2 linked regions of the Homo sapiens genome follow. The protein of the gene in region 1 interacts with the protein of each later gene in a pairwise test. Each region holds a gene or a part of one and is shown on either strand. Other genes may lie near its edges.

The links.
Region 2: the proteins of GIMAP1 (region 1) and ERGIC3 interact in binary tests that used the Homo sapiens proteins (3 or more experiments, as listed by UniProt).

What each region holds. Positions count from the first base shown.
Region 1 is NC_000007.14:150,722,199-150,724,784, reverse strand, and holds the end of GIMAP1 (GTPase IMAP family member 1), read right to left. Parts: 3' UTR 501-2,586; downstream 1-500. UniProt on the Homo sapiens protein: May regulate lymphocyte survival. Required for normal levels of mature T-lymphocytes and mature B-cells.
Region 2 is NC_000020.11:35,552,078-35,555,105, forward strand, and holds part of ERGIC3 (endoplasmic reticulum-Golgi intermediate compartment protein 3), read left to right. Parts: intron 1-2,294; coding exon of another isoform or gene 2,295-2,309; intron 2,310-2,966; coding exon 2,967-2,998; intron 2,999-3,028. UniProt on the Homo sapiens protein: Possible role in transport between endoplasmic reticulum and Golgi. Positively regulates trafficking of the secretory proteins SERPINA1/alpha1-antitrypsin and HP/haptoglobin.

The DNA.
Region 1 (2,586 bases):
GATAATTCAGGCTTAAAACCTGGAGTTGATCCTTCTGCAGAACTGGAAGTCAGAAAGTCTTTCTTTCCTTTTTATTTCTTGAGATTGAGATGTCTATCCTTGGTGTGTGTGTGTGTGTGTGTGTGCGCGCGCGCACGTTTGCATGCATGCAAGTGTGTGTGTTTAATTTTTGAGCAGTGGTATGCAATTCTCTTCAGTGTTCATCATGATACATTCTGCTAGCATGTAGTAGAAAAGATAGTCTAGGAGTCTTCAGACGTATGAAGTCAAGAGGATATGCACAATATAACACCATTTTGAAAGTAAAAAAAGTCCAAGTGCCTAAACTTAGTGGTATGTAAAGAGAATTATGAGGAGGGAAAGAAAATATAAAAATATGAGAAGAATTAGGCAAAGAATGTGATTGAAAGTATAAAAATAAGACTCAAACCAATAATTATAACTAAACATCCAGTATATGGAGTGATAACTTCTTAAAGAAATAAAGAGGAGGGGACAAATTTGTAAGCATCTCAATAAAGTATTTTATTGGCAGAATAAGCAAGAACCGAATCTAGTTGCCTAAGAAGAGGCCAACATTGCCACTGTTAGATTAAGAATCATGGGGGAAAAATGAGTGTTGAGCCATAGTCTAGCTATAGCTTCCCCAAGAATTTACAGAAATTCTCTTCTGGGGTACTGAATCCATAGGTGAATCTCTGGAAGGAGCACTGGCATTTGCTAGGGCTACTGTGCGGGCTGGAACTGAATATTGATTGTGTAAGAATATGTAAGAATGTACTCTGCCTGAAATCTTTTGCTCTAAAAGTTCATCATGGCCAACACTAGCTTTCAGAAATAAGCCAGATACAAGTCTTTTTGTGTAGAACAAAAGCTGATCCAGGTACCAGGGCATAGAAATATGAACAGAAACATTATCAGCACAGGACCCATACATTTTTATCTTCCAAGAGATAAAAGGAGAGGAGAGGAAGGGGGACAATTGAAATGGATATATATTTACACAATTTTTGAGGTATTGGACAGTATTTTTACTGTGTCTGGTTAAAATTAGCAAGCAAGTTTTTCCAACAGGAGGCAGTGCTGTTTTATGCTGTAATTTAAGTATAAAATTGATTTGTGCTATCAAATCACTCAAATTACATAAGTGAGGTCACAAGGCCTAACCTTGAGCTATGGGGGAAAAAGCAACCTTTAAGCCACAGCCTAAAAAAAGACTTTACCGAAGGGAATGGTGAATGCCAACTGTTCTGTAGCAGGAGAAAAGGATAAAATAAGCTGAAAGGGGTGGAAATACAGTAATTTGGGGGACCCTGTGCTTGAAGGGAAGTAAATTTCCTTAGGGCAGGAGAATATCATTAATACAATGACATGCTTGCGCGAAAGAATTTTCTGTTATCTATGGTAGAAAATTTAGAAAATGGTCAAAAGTCTGGTAGCTAGAAATCTAATATTAAAAAGGTACAGGAAAGTCAACTTTACAATTCATTTTCCAAACATTTGTTGATCCCACTTTCTATGCCAGGCACTGGGTTGTATAACGGGGATACAAAGATGAAAAAAAAAAGATCATAATCAAAGTATCTGAAAAAGAAAACCACTAAAGAAATGTTATTGAATGTAAAGGAAAACTGTAACTTCTTTAATAATACATTATTCAAATTCAAAGATGATAGCACATTTTGAGATTCAGATTGGTAATGTATCTTTGATTACACTTTGCAAATGTATTTGACAATTAACCATATACTACTACTTTTTATTACTGAGGTAGGAGGCAGGACTAGACTCTGGAGGTGGGGATTGGGCTCCAGACCACACTGAAGACAAGCTGAAAGGGAAGAGGTGAAAGAGTCTCTCCATAAAACACACTCACCAGTGCCACGTCAGGTTACCATTGCTAAGGCAACAGCTGGAAGTTTTGGCTCCTTTCCATAGCAACAATCCCACGACCTGGAAGTTACGACCTTTTTTCTAGAAATTTTGGCATAATCCACCCCTAAATTTGCATATAGTTGAAAGTGGGTATAAATGTGATTGCAGTACTGCTTCCGAGCTGCTACTCTGGGCACACTGCCTATTGGGAGCCCTGCTCCACAAAGCAGCTTTGTTGCTGCTGTACATTAAACCACTTTGATAAAAGTTGTTGTCTAACACCAGCAGCAGCACTGGCTCGTGCGCAAGTGACCGTGGACGACCACGCTGTGCCCTCCCTGCTGTCCCCTCTGGTCATCAAAGGATCCTTCCCTGGCTCGAGGCCCCTGCCTGGGCCCAGAAAGGCTGCTGAGGAAGCGAAAGGCAGGAATTAAACATGGGTTTTTCTTGAGCCACGCTTCAAAAAGTCCAACTCCCTGCAGCGGTCACCAAGGCCCTCAGGACCCCTCACCATAGCCTGCCCGAAGCCCGCAACCCACCTGGAACCTCCTGCAGTCCTTAGCCTGAGCTGGCAATTGTGCGCATGCTTGCAGACCCCTTCTTCCCAACGTGTGCTGGGGAAGACCCTAGGGCGCCTGCGCACACTCCCTCCTCCTCTTCCTCTTGAATAGAGCTAATGTGAATACCTGCTTCCCATGTCTCCATGACCTC
Region 2 (3,028 bases), on another chromosome or scaffold:
AAAGAAGACAGAATCTAGTGCCTTACATATGTGGAAAGTCCAAACTTAGCACCAGGAGGAAGGGCAGGCTCTGTAGGTACAGGTAGGGTGGTAGCTGGTGTGGCAGAAGTACATGGAGAGTCTCTTCTGAGTCTTCCCATCTTCTCCGTGTTGTAGGAAGGAAGGTCCTCAGTTGAGAATGAGGAGAGAGGGAAGGAGGTGTTGGAGATTTGAAAGAAGAAAAGATGTGACTGGTCACTTGGGGGTGGAAGAGTGCGTGGACTGGGGAGATTGAGTAGGATTGATGCAGCCCTAGGGCCTCCCTGGAGTCCGCGGCTGTGAATGCAAAGAGAGCGGTCAGCATGGTTGTCTGTGTGGGAATGGACTCAGTCAACAGAACATTGCAATTGCATGGGGTTTGGTGTTGCCAGGTGCCTGCAAAGGTGAGGGAGTCAAATATGTAAAGAACTCATCTTGATTCTGGACCACAGCATATGAGCTAGGAAAGGAGGAAAGACAGGATGTGGAGAAGCCAGTGAGGGGGCAGGAGGAAAAAGGGACTACAAGTCCTGAGTGTAGTGTCAACAAGTTATTGGAATTGGGGAACTGGAGGAAATTAGAAAGCTGGTGGAGCATGAGTTGCTTGAAATTGAAGTCACAGAAGGGGCTTTGTTAATGACAAAGTTTAGGGAATGGCCAACAGAGCAAGTGGCTTGGGTAGGCAGAGCACAAGATCAGGGAGGAAAGGATGTCCAGGAACTGGGAGGCCCGGGTACTGGAAGGATCATCTACGTGGATATGGAAATCACTAGAACGTGTGACAGAGGTAGTACAGGAGAGAGTGACAGGCAGTTGCCCAAGCTGTTGAAAAATGGCATGGGAAAACTGTTCTGGAGGTTCCATATCGATATCTAGGTGACTGAAACAAGCAGGGCTGCTTTGCCCTGAGCTTCAAAGCTGGGGATTTTTTTTTTTTTTTTTTTTTTTTTTTTGAGGCTGGAGTGCCATGGCACAATCTTGGCTCACTGCAGCCTTGACCTCCTGGACTCGAGATCCTCCCACCTCAGCCTCTCAAGGAGCTGAGACCACAGGCACATGCCACCATGCCTGGCTAATTTTTTTTTTTTTTTTTGCAGAGACAGGGTCTTGCCATGTTGCCCAGGCTCCTGGGCTCAAGTGATCCTCCCGCTTGGCCCCCCAAAATGTTGGGATTACAGATGTGAGCCATTGTGCATTTTTAAGGCAGATAAAGGGAAAGTGATCTGGAAGTGGCAGTAAGGAGCAAGAAAGACTTCTCTTTAGGCCAGGGAAGAGGTTGTGTATGGAGAGAAGATAGTCGCACGTTGAGGGGATGCCAGGGAGTTAGTGCCTGAAAGGAAGAGCCAGGCTGAAGCAAGAAAGTGAAGAGGAACCCAGGGGTTGAAGGCAGGGTTGGGGAAGGTGGGAGTTGGTGTCACAGTAAAGGATGGACAGAGCTGCACAGTGACAGAGCCCAGGGTATGAAGATGGCCTCTCAAAATGGTTGAAGTGAACAGGAAGAAAGGGCCCCCTGGAGGGTAGCTCTGCTGGTCTTCAGGGCAATCTGTGGGGGTGGGGCTGTGTTGGGGAGGGGCCAGTGTGGGGGCTGGAGGACCCTGCAGAGCTCTGGGACCCCCTCTTCACTCTGGAGGAAGCTGGGAGAAAAGGGTCTTGCTGGGAGGGCAGGAAGATGATCAGTGTCAAGCTGTTGGCACAAGGTCTGGCGGGCACTCAGTAGACACACAGCCAGAGTGGCAGCCTCTTGGCCTGGGACTGTTAGACTTGTGGATCCCCGGGCCGGGGGTGCTCTGTATTTGGAAGGATGTATAAATGCAAAGGTACAGTTGCCCAAGGCCAGAGATCTGGCTGAATTGAGGCCTGGGAGTGAGTTTCTAACATCCTTGTTGATTGGGGCTGGGGTGGGTAATAATCTCTTACAGTGTAAAGTTTACAAGTATTTTTCCATCTTAGATCCCACGTGATCCTTAGGACAGCCCTTTGCAAAGGAGAACACTGAGGCCCAGAAAGGGCAACTGATTTGCCCAAGGCCACACAGTCAGGAACTTGGCTCTTTGAGCTCTAGGCCTCTTGTCCTTCTAGGCCACTATTTTGCTCCTCTCTGGCCAGATTAGTTCACTCTCGAGGAGGGGCCCAGAAGGAGGCTTGTTAGCTGGGGCCAGACTGTGTTGCTGAGGCTGAATGTTCCAGTCTTCCCTCCTGCAACATATCTTGCTCTCATAGTTCTCATTGTGAAGCTCTGAATCTTTCTTCTCTCTCCTCCCTCCCCCATGCTGCAGTACATGCTGTGGAGAGTAAGTGGCCCTGCCCCCATGGAGGCCAAACCCCTACTTCTGGGGCAGCCTGCCCTACTAGAATGGCGGGGAGGTTGGATGGGGCTGTGATTGGGTCTCCTCTGACCTGGCTGCTGGGTGACTGTAAAAGGTCTGGGATGTATCTTTGAAGTATGGTTCCTTGCAGCAGGAGGGATTGAGGCTAGAGGGCAGGAATAAATTGTTCTGGAACAGTTGGTACAGGGTCCCCATGGGATTTCTTCTGGGGAGCTTTGAGGGTGGAGGCAGGGAAAGTGTGGATGGCATTCTCAGATCCCACCTCACTTTGAGGTTCAGTGATTTGCCATCAGCTCTAGTTAGTGAGAGCCCATAGTCGGTGGGTTTTGTTTCCGGAGATGCAGGCAGGGCCATGGTGGTAGTCAAGGCATAGAGTTCCCTGTGGACGTCAGGGAGGAACCAGGGTCTGTTCTAAAGACTCCTGAGGAGGGCGTGAACTCTCACACAGGCCCAAGGCTTGCCCTTTCTGGCTGTCCTTAAGCAGGACCAGGAGGTGCCAGGCTGGAGAAGGAATGAGGGGCAGAGAAGACAGGTGGTTTGCAGTCCAGGGGGAGGAAGGAGGAGGCCAGTGCTGCTCCTACTAATGACGCCTTCTCCCTTGCCTTCTCCCTTCTCTCCTAGTCCATGACTTGCAGAGCTTTGGCCTTGACAACGTACGTACCAGATGGAAACCATGGAGGGCA